3 separate regions of the Homo sapiens genome follow, and regions 2 and 3 are each linked to region 1. Evidence: fine-mapped QTL for protein levels in blood plasma. Region 1 holds a variant in brackets. A gene starts in each other region. All regions are shown on their forward strands. Region 1 overlaps ZNF827 (zinc finger protein 827). Region 2 holds the start of COQ7 (coenzyme Q7, hydroxylase). Region 3 holds the start of ANPEP (alanyl aminopeptidase, membrane).

Evidence for each region. A credible set is the group of variants that fine-mapping cannot tell apart. PIP is the chance, under the fine-mapping model, that this variant and not a neighbour inherited with it causes the effect. The UK Biobank Pharma Proteomics Project read protein levels with antibody pairs (Olink). The fine-mapping took linkage between variants from a reference panel, not from the people measured, so its PIPs are less certain.
Region 2: it holds the start of COQ7, and the variant in region 1 is the best candidate, but not a certain one, in a credible set for the plasma level of the COQ7 protein (UK Biobank, PIP 0.58).
Region 3: it holds the start of ANPEP, and the variant in region 1 is the best candidate, but not a certain one, in a credible set for the plasma level of the ANPEP protein (UK Biobank, PIP 0.86).

Annotation. Positions count from the first base shown.
Region 1 is chr4:145,897,482-145,902,481 of GRCh38, forward strand. It overlaps ZNF827 (zinc finger protein 827), which reads right to left. Exons shown (of 15, transcript NM_001306215.2): 2 at 4,685-5,000. Among named protein-coding and RNA genes, the nearest start is that of ZNF827, 39 kb to the right of the region's middle. The variant C/A (reference allele first, on the strand shown) is at 2,777.
Region 2 is chr16:19,064,797-19,069,796 of GRCh38, forward strand. COQ7 (coenzyme Q7, hydroxylase) reads left to right here and starts at 2,818. Exons shown (of 6, transcript NM_016138.5): 1 at 2,818-2,941. The coding sequence starts at 2,869. It overlaps COQ7-DT (COQ7 divergent transcript), which reads right to left and starts at 2,895. Exons shown (of 3, transcript NR_119381.1): 1 at 2,785-2,895. RefSeq lists a silencer at 2,842-3,001 and an enhancer at 3,032-3,181.
Region 3 is chr15:89,813,502-89,818,861 of GRCh38, forward strand. It overlaps ANPEP (alanyl aminopeptidase, membrane), which reads right to left and starts at 1,351. Exons shown (of 21, transcript NM_001150.3): 1 at 1,271-1,351. RefSeq lists an enhancer at 920-1,419, promoters at 1,287-2,441, 1,287-1,775 and cis regulatory regions at 1,390-1,395, 1,647-1,775, 1,683-1,686, 1,685-1,714, 1,732-1,734.

The sequences.
Region 1 (5,000 bases):
CCATTCTGGACCTACTAACATTACCGGTACACATCTGTGTAGGATGACGACCTATCTTCCTTCCTAACAATACACATGGACTTTAAATCTTTTAACAGAATTTCTTTGTTATGTGTCTCAAATGCTATTTCATGGCAACAAAAAAAGCCTAGGTTAGCAATGGATGTCCCTGGGTTTATCTGTTATTATGGATGCTGACTTTATTAATGCCTATTTTAACTAGTAAATATTCAGAGAAGTCTGATATCTATAGCCATACTAAGTTTAAATCACTGCGAAAATACAATTGAGATTAATGACGGACAGTTCTAAAAATCTAGGTTAAAAAGTGAATTTTCTAAACAAGTTCATATATGGGATCATTCTCAGATTAAGGCTTATTGAGACTTATGGCCGGGTCCTGTGCTTCATGCCTGTAATCCCAGCACTTTGGGGGCCTGAGTAGGGTGGATCACTTGAGGCCAGAAGTTCGAGACCAGCCTTACTAACATGGCGAAACCCCATCTCTACTAAAAATACAAAAATTAGTCGGGTGTGGTGGTGCATGCCTGTAGTCCCAGCTTCTCAGGAGGCTCAGGCACAAGAATTGCTTGAACCCGGGAGGCGGAGGCTGCAGTGAGCCGAGATCGCACCACCGCACTCTAGCCTGGGCTATAGAGCCAGACGCTGTCACAAACAAAAGATTTATTATAATAACCACGGGCCTAATGGGAGTATCAGGAGAGGTGATCTCCCTCTCCGGACTTTGTATGCTTTTGCAATAATTTTAATAACATCACATAAATATTAAAGAAAACAGCAGCCAGAAACCCCCTATGTATTGACCCACAGGAAATATTCTTAGTTCTCAGCTGTATGAGACCAGGTTTGCTTCTAAGAATATTTACATTTTATTCAGTACAATAAGATGTTTTGGAGACCCTCTCTCTGAAACTCTCCCTGTTATTTCTTTTAAACAGGAGTCTGGCATCCTGGGAATCTTGTTGGCCTTCTACAAGAAACTTTGTCTTTAAAATAAAAACCATTTATTTTATTCTTAGCTGCAACAGAACAGTAGCTTCAAAGAGAATTCAGTCAATGTGTGACATTTATCTTTATAGCAAACGGACATAATCTTCCCTCTATCGTGTCCCCTTTCAGAGGAGCCGTGTAGCATGTGCTGGGGGCGCAGGGTCACATGAAAGAAACCTCCCCCTCAAGTGTCACGTCTCTCTTGCAGGGCGGAAAGGCTATCGAGTGGTGGACTCTTAAGGAATTAAATACACCATGACCTGGCAACCACTGAATCCTGTTCAAAAAAGAAGAATAAGGCCAAACCTAAAAGACAATTTTTTTTTCATGGTTTGGACTTCCCTTGACCTAAAGAAGGTCAAAGAAATGGTGGTGTCTAAATTACTCAAGGCGGGATCAGCTTTTCTAGCACATATCTCTTTGTAACTTAAGAATCAACTTTATATGCTTTTTTCTTGCGCATTTTGAGAAATCGCTTTTTAAAAATGAAAGCCCTGCCTGAAATCAGGATGGTGTGTAGTTTATTTTTGTGGCTTTTTGTTGTTGTTCTTGGGGGCGGTTATTATTTGTTTACTTAAGTCATTAGGCAACAGAAACTCTTTTCCCTGCTGTGAGAGGCCAATGCACCTACGTATTTTGAATTAAACTAAGATTTCCTTCTAAGGGAGAGGAAAGAATAATAATGACAAATGTTCCCATACAGGGGTGATGACTCTCACCACATTTCCATAATGCTTCTTAGATAAATCGAAGGTACATCCCAATCCAGCCCCAGGTGGCCCCCAAACCAACAGTATAATGTGTGGAAGGTGGGGGAGGGAGGGGGAGGGAAGAAAAGGGAGTTGGGGAGGGTAGAGGGGACAGATGGAGATGATCCACCTTTCCTTCCACTCCTCAGATGCCAAAATCAGTGATCCCCAGTAACACCAAATCATGTACCCATGATACAAAGACAAATAACAAAATTAGATACTCTGTGAACTCCTTATTAACCCATAATCTAGCTAGGCTGCTGGGAAGTGATGACATTCACTTTAACTGAAAAGAGTGAGGGCATCCCCTCTTCTGTTTCCAAGCCATGCAATAACAAACAGAACTTGAACGTAGGATGGGCCCACGTGGACGTATGGAATATTTTTCGGGTAACAATTTCAAGGACCCTCATTTTCTTGGCAGTGATCTTTCCTCATGCATGAGTTTTACAAAATGAAAGATTTTTTAAATAAAATTACTCTGCTGATGAAGCTGCTTCTTCAAGTCTTAGACTGAACAGAGGCATGTTGAAATGGGAGAGTTGGGGTGGGGAGGCCTTAGGTACAAGTCAATCAGCACAGGGTTCTATAACCCAAAGCTGAGAAGTTCCTTTCCCTCCTCTTTCAGTTTGAACATTCTGAACATCCCTTGATTAAAATATTAAGTGTTTCAGCAATATAATAAATATAGTAAAAAGCAAAGTAAGAAACGATTTCTTATAGATCTCCCATATTCAATTATTCTGAGAACCCCACTGAGTTGCTGGCATAGATTAAGTGTATTTAAACCAAAAAGGAACATAGCTTTTCCCTTGGGTGTATTTCCCACAACAAAACAAACAAAAAGTCTACCATTCACTGGAAGCTCATGACCTCTTTCTCATCTTTACATGTATCTGGTCGTTTGAGTGAAAAAAATTATATTCACAACCATTGCTGGTTATACCGGAGACTTCAATATGACAAAGCTGCTACAGTCTGGGCTTCAGGAAACATGGTTTTATCAGTCACTT[C/A]TTTCCAAGTCTTCAATCAACTAAAGTTTATTATTAACTTTGCATAAGCTTTCCCAACTAACAAATGTCCAGATGAATTGTATACTAGAAACGCCATTCACACATTTATTCAATAACTAGATATGCAGAATATACATATATATAATTATTATTTTCTTTTTTTTATTTTTATTTTTTTGAGACAGAGTCTCATCCAGGCTGGACTGCAGTGACACGATCTCAGCTCACTGCAACCTCTGCCTCCCGGGTTCAAGCAATTCTCCTGCCTCAGCCTCCCAAGTAGCTGGGATTACAGGCGCACACCACCACGCCTGGTTAATTTTTGTATTTTTAGTAGAGACGGAGTTTCACCATATTGGTCAGGATGGTCTTGACCCCCTGACCTCAGGTGACCCACCCGCCTTGGCCCCTCAAAGTGCTAGGATTACAGGTGTGAGCCACTGCGCCCGGCCTAAAATTTTATTTTATATACAGCCATACCTCTCTTTCTACTGCTATCCCTAAATGAAATTTCTATAAGTCAGGAGTGATTTTTTCCATCGTAGAACTACCCCAGCCTCCTTTGCTCTTCTCCTTGTTTCCTAATTTTACCCATTTCTCTCCTTATTTCACCAGATGGCAGGTGAGAAGAGAGGAGAAGTGGAACTTAGAATTGACAACATCCTAGGATTTTACTGACATTTCAGAAACTCTGGAGAGAACAGTTTGGATCACCAAGAGTCATAAAAGTCCCAGATACCCATTTTCCTCGTTGTCTTCTGCTGTTGACTCAAGTTTTGAAGTACTTATAATTAGTGAATATAGCTCACTCAGCCATTTAAATGGAAATTTGTCATAAATGCATCAAATTGACATTAACTGTGATCGTTCCGTCAATTATTTGCCATTCCAAACCCTCTTCATCATTGTTGCTGAAAATAATCAAAAGTTGGCTAGACACACACGATGGCAATGTTTGTACCGATGAGGATGCACATAGCCTACTTCCTGCTCCAGTCTGGCAGGATATCCTTAAGAGACATCTGAAACCCCAACACGCATCCCAGGAACGTGTATTTATCATGTACACAATTTTAAAGCAAACCAGAACAAGAAATGGTGTTTCCACTGTGAGAATTCAAGTGACTAAATTTCTCCCTCAGATGAATAATTGTGAATGCTAAGGTCCTATATGACAGCGATTTCTCCTTTGGAAAGACTGCCTCCACTAGAAAAACCTTAGGATTCAAATTTTCCACATGCACATTCCTTCAAAATTGGATTGGATTTGAATTAAATAAAGCATTCACAGGAAATGTGTTGATTATGTTTGATTGACAATCTTTTTGAGTTCTTATAGGACAAGAAATTGTAGGAGAATAGGATACGTGAAAAGGGCTTAAATTCCACAAAAAGTAATAAAAATGCTAACATAAAAGTATATGGTGTGATAAATTAGGGCAGAGTAGTTCCTGATTGTACAAAAGTCCATTTGTGATGGAGGCAGCAGGAGTGTGGGCTCTCCCTTGTCCACTATTTCAAAAGCAGTGGGTTTTTTTCCCCTTATGTTCAGTGATGCCATGCACTCCATGACAAAGATGCTTTGATCTTCTCCCATTAAATATATCTTGTATGGACCTAGCCTGAACTTAGTAAGAAAAAAAAATCATTTGTATGAAAGGGAGGGAATGCTGTATGTCTCTAAGATTATTCATTACCTTTCAAAAGTGAAGCTATTTGTGAAGTCTTTGTGTAATACGTACATGAAAGACTACTATGCTGCTTACTTAAAGTATTTTTGTTGTGCTCTTGCTTTTTTATTCCTGCCTCAGATCAGATGGGGAACCCAACTGAAAAAAGCAATGAATAAGACATCGCAGTTTATAGTCTAAAGGACTTACACGATGATTGAAAGAAAAGATGCCATACCTGAATTGGAGGGTTTAGAAACTCTTCCCTTAGGAACTGGGAGTAATAATAATTCCAGGGATTGTGGTGGTGGTGGTGGAGGTGGTGGAGGTGGCGGTGGAGGTGGCGGAGTGACTTTTTCTGGTTTCTTCTCTGAAGGCGGGGGCGGTAGAGGGTCCTCAGGCAGCAGCGATGATTTCTCAGCCAGAAGACTGCCCGCAGCCCTTGCGGCCACCTCCTTCAGAAGGGCCGCTGAGGAGGTCATAGAAGCCAGGGAAAGGAAGGAGCTGGCCGGTGGAGGGTGCTCCTGACCAGGAGTCAAACTTCTTTCACTGAC
Region 2 (5,000 bases), not on the chromosome of region 1:
CTACAGGCGCCCACCACCACACCCGGCTAATTTTTTGTATTTTTAATAGAGACAGGGTTTCATCAGGATGGTCTTGATCTCCTGACCTCATGATCTGCCCGCCTCGGCCTCCCAAAGTGCTGGGATTACAGGCGTGAGCCACTGTGCCTGGCTGTGTTTTTTTTTTTTTTTTTTTTTGAGATGTAGTCTCACTCTATTGCCCAGGCTGGAGTGCAGTAGTGCGATCTCGGCTCACTGCAACCTGGGTTCAAGTGATTCTCCTGCCTCAGCCTCCCAAGTAGCTGGGACTACAGGTGTGTGCCACCATGCCCAGCTAATTTTTGTACTTTTAGTAGAGATGGGGTTTTGCCCTGTTGGTCAGGCTGGTCTTGAACTGCTGACCTCAAGTGATCCTTCCACTTCGGCCTCCCAAAGTCTGGGATTACAGGGGTGAGCCTCCGTGCCTGGCTGGAACTAGTTTTTTTAATGGATAATTTGGTGGGTAGGGGGATGGAATTAGGGAATAGTATGCATTTTTGTTTTTTAAATTTTGTTTTGCCATTATAAAAATACTTGTTTTTTATAGCAAATACAGAGAACATCAAAAGCAACAGAGAAAAAAACTTAAAAAGCAGCACTTATGGGCACGCACTGTTAATCCTGGCAAAATTCTTTTTAAGATAGAAAGTACAGAGGGAGGGAAAAAGAAGGAAAAAGAAGGAAAGAACTTTGGTATTCTAATTTCTTTTTCACTTAATATGTGTTTTCCTGAAGAATCTAGTGTTTTCTCCTGTTATTAAAAGCTCTTTACAAACATTTCAATGGGCTACATAACATCATACAGTTGGATTTTTTTTTTTTTTTTTGAGCCAGAGTCTAGGTCTATCACCCACTCTGGAGTGCAGTGGTGTGATCATGGCTCAGTGCAGCCTCAACCTCCTGGGCTCAAGTGATCCTTTTAGCCTCACAAGTAGGTGGGATCAGAGGCACACACCACCATGCCTGACTAATTTTTAAAATTTTTTGTAGAGATGGAATCTCACTGTGTTGCCCAGGCTGGTCTTGAACTCCTGGGCTCAAGTGATCCTCTCGCCTCAGTCTCCCAAAGTGTTGGGATTACAGGCGTGAGCCACTGCACTCGGACATGATGTTTTGATATTCAATTGTTGCTTAACATTTTGTTTCCAAATTTTCCCAGTAATAAATAATGGGCACATCTATAAATCTTTGTCAACATTTTTTCTCCTTAGAAACAGAGACCTAGGCCAGGCGTGGCGGCTCACGCCTATAATCCCAGCACTTTGGGAGGACAAGGTGGGAGGATCACTTGAGGTCAGGAATTTGAGACCAGCCTGGCCAACACAGCGAAACCCAGTCTCAGCTGGGCGTGGTGGTGTGTGTACCTGTAATCCCATCTACTTGGGAGGCTGAGGCAGGAGAATCGCTTGAACCCGGGAGGCAGAGGTTCCAGTGAGCCAAGGTCTCCCCACTGCAATCCAGCCTGTGCGACAGAGTGAAACTCCATTTAAAAAGAACAAAAACAAAAAACAAAACAAAAAGGAAACAGAGACCTAGAAGTGGTATTACAGCAAAGGTTTTGAACATTTTAAGGCTTTTGAGCGCCAGATTCAGACACTCAGTAGTTTTACATGAGAGTGCTACAACATCCTCACTAAGTAGTATTTGGGTTCATCATAATTTTAAATTATTTTGGTGTGTCAATTTGAACACTAGAGTGATATAAAAACTAAAAACTTGAATTCAATAATTTTACAATTGTATTCCATCTTAAAATATTTTATGGTAAACTTGGATAAAGTATATAAATAATCCAAGGGTGTAAAGTAGAAAGTGAAAGCTCCCTTCTCCCAGTTCCAGCCCCCTGATGTTGCCAATATTAAACGTTGTATATCCTTGCAGACACGCATCTTTGATTTTTGCCCTCATGTACATTACTCATTTAAAAATTATTTCGTTGAGTAGATTCCTAAAAGTAAGACTGCTGTATTATATGATCTTTTTAAAGTATGTTGCTAAATTTCCCCTCCCTTCTCAAAAAATTCCAATTTGCACAAATATACATGCATACATGCACACAGTACATTAAGGTGGATACCAAGGATAAAACATGTTCTCTGTTTCTGAAAATAGAGAAAAGACCGGGAAGAAGTTTAAAGTTGGCTTTCAGCCCACCAATAGAGATAACACTATATAACACCATTAACCATGTGGTGCATGTAATTTAGATATACATATAATTTTATTTATTTATTTATTTTTCAGACAGGGCCCAGGCTAGAGTGCAGTGGCAGAATCACGGCTGACTGCAGCCTCGAGCTACCGGGCTCAAGCTATCCCCCCACCTCAGCCTCCCGAGTAGCTGGGACTACAGGTGTGCTCCACCAGACCCGGCTAATTTTTAAAATTATTTGTAGAGGCGGGGTCTCGCTATGTTGCCCAGGCTTACTATTTTAAAGTAGATGTAGGATACAAATAAAAAAAAAAATCTCCTTCCACGTAGGTAAAGCAGGAAATACCGTGCCTTGTTAATAAGTAATTCCCTCATGATCCTTTTCCCCAGGAACTTGGGTGAGAAATCATAACCTTGTCCTGATCTTTCTAAACAGCAATTTAGCATTTTCATCTCCCTGGCAACCCAAGGCGCCTTGGCCTTGGTCTTCCGAGTGATTGACAGTGACCCCACCCAATAAAATCTTTTTATTTGTCGTATCTAACCAATCTAACCCCTAGCGCAGAGCTAGGGGGCGTTCCCACCGGTGCGCGGGCGAGCTGAGCCTTCCTTACGTCTGCTGTGCGTCATCAGTCCGAGCCAAGGGCACTATTGGCCAGTTCCGTTCAACGAAGTGGTTGCTTTTTTTAGTTCCGGCAATGAGTTGCGCCGGGGCGGCGGCGGCTCCCCGCCTTTGGCGGCTGCGCCCGGGGGCCCGGCGGTCCCTCTCAGGTAAAAGGAGGCGCGCAGTCACAGTCCTGCGCCGGTCTAGCGAGCTAGGGAATTTTCGCTTGAGGTTTGGGTCGAAGAGGTCACGGGGGAGAGGTTCGTAACGTCACAGGCCTGCGACGGAGCGCGACTGCGTGACTTCGGCCTCCGGGGCGCTGGCGGGCGGGGCGGGGTCTGTAGTTAGCGGCGAGAGTGACAGGAGGACAGGGGTTGTTTCGGCAGTGACGCCTGGGGAGTGACGCAATTGCACCCCTGTGCAGTGATGTCACGGCAGGTGCGGCCAGCGTTCCGAGTCGAGGACAGTTGGCGACACTGAAAATTCAGCGTCTCCGGGAGTCTCTCTCTTTGTAGTCTTTGCCCAGGGCCTTGCCAGGCAAAGGGTAGCCCGACGACCAGCAGCCTCCGCTACTTCTGGGCGCTCGCTAGAAATACAGATTCTCGGGCCCCACCCCGACCTACTTGGTCGGTATCTGTGATCTGTGAACAGGACCTTTAGGTGATTTGCATGCACTGTAAACTGTGAAAGCCATCAGTGTAGTGGAAGGAGCATCGAATTTAGAGTAGAGAGACATGGTTTTGGACCCTGGTTCCTGCTTTCCTTGTTTCATCTGTGCTGCCTTAGAAAATTGTCATGAGCCCGGGCGCGGTGGCTCCGGCCTATAATCTCAGCACTTTGGGAGGCCGAGGCTGGAGGATCCCCTGAGGTCAGGAGTTTGAGACCAGCCTGGCCAACATGGTGAAACCCCGCCTCTACTAAAAATACAAAAATTTGCCAGGCGTGATGGCAGGTGCCTGTAATCCCAGCTACTCAGGAGGCTGAGACAGGAGAATCGCTTGAACCCGGGAGGCAGAGATTGCTTTGAGGCGAGATTGCACCACTGCACTGCAACCTGGGCGTCAGAGCGAGACTTTGTCTCCCCCGCGCAAAAAAAAAAAAAAAAAAGAAATTTCATGAAGTCGTTTTCTCAACGTTAAATTACCGTGTACCACTTTCGGGATTTTTGCCTAATGGCAGTACTGCTTGAACTTTTGATTACTAGATGTGTTTTTTTGTATAGCTATGTCCCATTTAAAAATTAAATTAATTTCCTTGAAACAAAATCCTTATGGTGAATGGGAAGCCAGTGCCACTTGCCACAAATGGGTGAGTAATCATTAAAAAAAAACAAACAAATTAAAAAGTTATGAAATTGTATTAAATACTGTCTTTCTGTTACAAAGGGGAAATTAGCAAGTGTTGGGAAAGTGTTAAGGCTATACCAGCTGTAAATGGAGTTATCTTCCTTAATGAAAGAGATTGCAAGAGATTTTGAAAGAGTACCCCTTACTACATGGGGTTATTTGCTGCATATCCATAAGCCACTTAATATTTTGTAGGTACCACACTGGCATGTTTCACACTTTGGGAAAATATGGACATAAAGTGATGCATTTGAGAGCTAGCACCGAGCCTCAATTTTACTTTAAAGTATATGGTAATGCAGGCAAAACTCCGAGGGTTGTTGAATGTGAATTTTAATGCTGCTCTGTTCAGCCAGTGAGCATAACAGAATAAGACTCATTTCTGTTTATAAAGTTACTTTGCTTCTTATATCTTATTTTATCCTCATAACTCAGTAAGAAAAGTTTATTATTGTATGTTTTCCCTTAAAAAGGAAAGAGCCTGATTATTGCCTTTTTTTTTTTTTTTTTTTGAGGCAGAGTCTTGCTTTGTCGCCCAGGCTGGAGTGCAGTGGCGCGATCTCAGCTCACTGCAACCTCCGCCTCCTGGGTTCAAGTGATTCTCCTGCCTCAGACTCCCGAGTAGCTGAGGCTGCATGCATGCACCACCACGCCTGGCTAATTTTTGAATTTTTGGTAGAGACGGGGTTTCGCCATGATGACCAGGCTGGTCTCGAACTCCTGACCTCAAGTGATTCTCCCTCCTTGGCTTCCCAAAGTGCTGGGATTACAGGCGTGAGTCGCCGCACCCAGCCAATTTTATATGTAAGAAATGTCGATCCTGATTTTCCCAAGGCTAGTGTTAGAGATGGGACACATGTTTTATGCTTCTTTTTTTCTT
Region 3 (5,360 bases), not on the chromosome of region 1:
TGCACTCATAGTGTGGCCTTCGAGGCTAGGGCTCCACAGGAAGGTGGCTGAGAGTGGATGAGGGCCTCATGGGCCCAGCACACCCTCCCACAGGGAGAGGGGAGTCCACCCTCTTCCCTGCCCAGCTCCCCCATACCCACTGGGGCTAGCCAGCCTTCCTGTGGGACAGAGGCTGTCCCCACTTCCTCCTGGTCACCCCTACCCCACACGCCCACCTCCCCTCCACAAAACACATACCCTGAGGGGCCCTCTGGTCCAAGCCTCCCCTTTCACAGGTGAATTAACTGAGGCCCAGTAAGGCCAGGGCGTTTAGAGACTCAGGGATGAAGCCACATCAGACCTCAGGTCTGGCTGAGACCAGGGCTCTGACCACCCCCGAACACGGCCTGGTGGGTTGCAGTCCAGGGGCTGAGGTGGGGGAGGAGTGGGGATCCAGTCACAAAACCCCAGGACATAGCCCACCTGGGCCGTCCCTGCCCACCGCACTGCTGGGGGGGGGGGGTGCGTTCTGGAGTCATTTGGGGAAAGGATCCCATTGGCCCTGTTTAGGGGACCTTTTCCCAGACCAAGAGTGGATTGCAATGGGGCCCTGGATCTGTCTCAGTTGCTCACCAGGGAGGGCGTGGAATAGGCTCCACAACCCCCAAACCTCGGTCCCCATCCATGCCCCGGCATCTTGGCCGGGTTGTAGGAGCGAGGGAGAACGCGACTGTAACGCGGGCGTTGAGCACCTAGAGTTCCCCTTCCTCTTCACTGAGAGCTGCGGCGGAGGCTTTAGACCGAGGAGCGAGATCTAAGGTTAAAGAAAGGGCCTCTGAGCCCAGTGTTGGCCAGAGACCCCACAGGCGGGCCGGGTTCGCCCTTTGCCTTCGGCCGCGCCCCACCCACCAGGGACAGAGTGGCCGCGGCCGAGCCGGGTCCACCCGCCGCAGCTTAGCTCCGCTCCGCCGCCCTCCCCGTCCGTCCTCCCCAGGCTCCCGTCGCCCTCGCCCACCCTGGGGCCCCCTCCCCAGATGGGAGCCCCTCCGACCCCTGCGAGGCCCGCTGGGGACCCACTTGACCGCGAGATCGTAGTGGGAGCTCGGCCAAAAGAATTCTTCGCTTTCCCTGGCCCTCAGTTTACCCATCTGGGAAGAGGGGCGTCGCGGCCGCAGAAGTCCAGCTCCGCACGCGCCAAGCGCTGGGTCTGCAGCTCCCTCGGTTCCCGCGCACCCAACTGCCCCACGACCCCTACCCGCGCCCGCAGCCCCCGCCCTCCCGCCCCACTTGCCTGGGCCGCCGGGCGCTGGAACCTGGACCCTGGACCCTGGCGGGTTCCGAGCTGCGCCGCCGCCGTCCCTGCCCCTCCAGCACTGGACTCCTCCTTTCCCGTCTTTTTAAAGGGAAGTAACCGGACCCGACCACTACTCCACCCGATTCACCCCTAGCGGGCCGCCCGCCCGCAGCTCCGCCCGGGCTCCTCCCCCGTCCGCCCGCGGCTTCCCGGGAGCCCCCCAGGGCTCCTCCGCTCCTCCGACGGCCCGGCCTTCCCCCCGGGGCCTGGGATGCACCAGGGCTCCTGCTGCCCCCGACGGGGTCCCTGTCGCCGCAGCCCGCGGGACCCGCCGGCCACATCTGGACGGCATCTGCCGCGGGGGAGGGGCTCAGAGCCTCGCCCTGAGTGTCCCGCAGGGAGCCTTGTGCATCCGGGGCAGGAAGCCAGCGCATCCCGTGCAGACGGGTGGTGCAGATAACGGACCCGCCACAGCACGCAATTCAACTTTCTTGGTACCTGGGACTCGTAGTTCAGAAGGCGCAGTAGCACGACCTTGCGAAAAAGCACCGGAGTCGGGAACACGCGCTTCTCATTTTTTTCTTTTTCCTTTATTTGTTTTTGAGACAGAGTCTCGCTCTGTCGCTCACGCTGGAGTGCAGTGGCACTTTCTCCGCTCACTGCAACTTCCTCCTCCTGGGTTCAAGCGATTCTCCTGCCTCAGCCTCCCGAGTAGCTGGGACTACAGGTGCACGCCACCACGCCTGGTTAATTTTTGGAGTTTTAGTAGAGACAGGGTTTCACCATGTAAGGCTCGTCTCGAACTCCTGACCTCAAGTGATCCGCCCGCCTTGGCCTCCCAAAGTGCTGAGATTACAGGAGTGAGCCACCACACCTGGCCTGCGCCTCTCATCTTGATCCTGCTTGCAGAGGTTGTGCAGCCACCGGAGCCCCGCCAGGGTGGGGCTCCCTGTCTCTGAGCAGCTTTAATGGGCGGTACCAGATAATATTTGTATTGGTTCCCTGTGGCTGCCGTAACACAAACATAAAACAACACTAATTTACTATCTTACAAGTTTTGTAAAATCAGAAGTCCAAAATGGGTCTCGCTGGACTAAAAGCAAGGGGGTTGAGGGATACAGCTTTCTTGAGGCTGGAAGGGAACCTGTTTCTTTGGCTTTTCTGGCTTCTAGAAGCTGCCCACATTCCTTGGCTGGTGGCCCCATCCATCTTCAAAGCCAGCAGTGGCCCACCAGTCTCTCACAATCTGTCACTCTGACACCAACTGTTCTGCCTCTTGCTTCCACTGGTGAGCATCTTTGTGATTACATCGGGCCTACCCAGATAATCCAGGGTAATCTTTCTATTTTAAATCAATGGATTGGCAACTTGAATTCCACCTGCAACTGTAATTTCCCTTCGTGGGGTAGCATAACATATTCACAGATTCTGGGCATTAGAACCAGGGCATCTTTTGAGGAGGAGGATATGATTATGTCTACCACAATATTCAAGCTGACTTCCAGACTTTCAGATTTATAATCAAATTTAAGCTCTTCCTTATCCATGATTGGAATCCTTGGGACAGTTAAAGCCTTGCACTGCATGGTCCAAATTGATGGCTTTGTGACTGGCTGTGTTTTATTATTTTACTTGCACTTGCTCTTCTTTTGGAAACTTCATGGAGGACCAGGGTACCTCTAGGTAGCAGCCTTGCTTCTCCTTCCTAATTTGCTCTGTACTCTTAAAAACCAGGTCACAAACATATCGGAATATAGAATTGTGTGTAAAGTAAGAGTAAGTAGGCTGTGAGTGAGACCTCAGAGGCTATTTTGTTTTTTTTCTCTCTCCAGTCTCATGCATGTCTGACTCTCTCCACTATCATATCTGGCATAATCTCCTCCATGTCTGACAAGCCAAGGAAAACACTACATCAGGCCAGGAGAGAATCTTCCCCCCGGAGCTCTGCCTCTCCCACCCAGGCTCCGCGGAGATTTTAAGAGGAGTAAAGATCCTGCTGTGGCAGAAGTGCAACCCAGCTTTCTGGAGGGCAGTTTGGGGTTAGGAATGAAGATCACTTTCAGAAATTTAGCCTGAAGAGGCTGGGCGTGGTGGCTCATGCCTGTAAGGCAGGTGGATCACTTGAGGTCGGGAATTCAAGGCCAGCCTGGGCAACCTGGTGAAACTGTGTCTGTACTAAAACACAAAAATCAGCCAGGTGTGGTGGCGCATGCCTGTGGTCCCACCTACTTGGGAGGCTGAGGCACGAGAATCGCTTGAACCTGGGAGGCAGAGGCTTCAGTGAGCTGAGATCACATGACTGCACTCCAGCCTCGACTACAGAGCAAGACTGTCTCAAAAAAATAAATAAATTTAGCCTAAGGAAATAGAATATTTATATGCAAGGCTTTTCACTGCAGTATTACTTATAATACTGGAAAATCAGAAATAGCCTAAGTGGGCTGGGCGTGGTGGCTCATGCTTGTAATCCCAGCACTTTGGGAGGCCAAGGCAGGCAGATTACGAGGTCAGGAGTTCGAGACCAGCCTGGCCAATGCAGTGAAACCCTGTCTCTACTAAAAATACAAAAATTGGGTGGGCATGGTGGTGGGTGCCTGTAATCCCAGCTACTGGGGAGGTTGAGGCAGGAGAATCGCTTGAACCCGGGAGGTGGAGGTTGCAGTGAGCCGAGATTGCGCCACTACACTCCAGCCTGGGTAACAGAGAGAGACTCTGTCCACCCCCTGTGAAAAAAAAGATGAAGAGACAGTGCTTGCTCCTGCAGAAAGAAAATTCATGGGCTCATAAACATGTAAAAAGATGTTCAATAACTCACTTATTAAGAAAATGAAAATTATAACTACAAAAGATACTATTCTTCACTTACCAGATCAGCAAAGATAAAAAGCAGTTTGGTAGGTCAGGCACAGTGGCTCATGTCTGTAATTCCAGCACTTTGGGAGGCTGAGGCAGGAGAATCACTTAAAACCAGGTGTTCGAGACCAGCCTGGGCCACGTGGCAAAACCCTGTCTCTACCAAAAAAAAAAAATTAGCCAGGCGTGGTGGCACGTGCCTGTAGTCCCAGCTACTTGGAAGAATGAGGTGGGAGGATTGCTTGAGCCTGAAAAGTCAAGGCTGCAGTGAGCCATGATCGTGTCACTGCACTCCAGCCAGAGCGATAGAGTGAGTCCCTGTCTCAAAAAAAAAAAAAAAAGTTTGGTAACACACTATTCGCAAGGGTGGGAGGAAAACAGGCAACCCCCTGCATTGCTGGTTGGTGTGTAGACTGACTCGACCTCAAAAGAGAATATTTGGGCAGTATTTATCAAACATATAAACACATGTCCTGTTTGACTTGGCACTTCCAGAAATTTATCCTACAGATAATGCTCACACGTAAGTGAAAGGAATACACAAGGCTTTCCACTGCATCGCTGCAACATTGAGCCAAAACCACAATGACTTTTGCACCAATCTAATAGCTGGAGACAACCTAAATGTCCACCAATAGAGATGGGATAAATGAATGATTATTGTATGCCCTGCAATGGAATGCATATGGCTATCAAAAATAACTAGGATTCTCCTTACAGAACGCTCCCCAGGACAGGTTGTTTAGTAATAAAACCTAGACGCAGAGCCGTGTTCAAGTCGTTTATCAATTGTACTTAAATGGAAAAAGCACAGAGACACACAATTTGCTTTTATATGTGCACGCGCTGATAACACGAGTTGTTTCCCAGGAAGGAAACTGGAGCTGGAGAACAGGGTGGGAAACGCATTTTTCAGCATATCCTTTTGTTCTCTTGAATCTTGAACCATGTGAATACCGTGTCTAATCAAAATATAAATAAAATTAAAAGTGAAGACGAAAGACCAGAAGATTAACAGGCTTTATAATATAATTTTTTTTTTGAGATGGAATTTTGCTCTTGTTGCCCAGGCTGGAGTGCAATGGCGCAATCTTGGCTCACTGCAACCTCCGCCTCCTGGGTTCAAGCGATTCTCCTCCCTCAGCCTTCCGAGTAGCTGGAATTACAGGCGTGTGCTACCACACCCACCTAATTTTGTATTTTTAGTAGAGACAGGGTTTCTCCATGTTGGTCA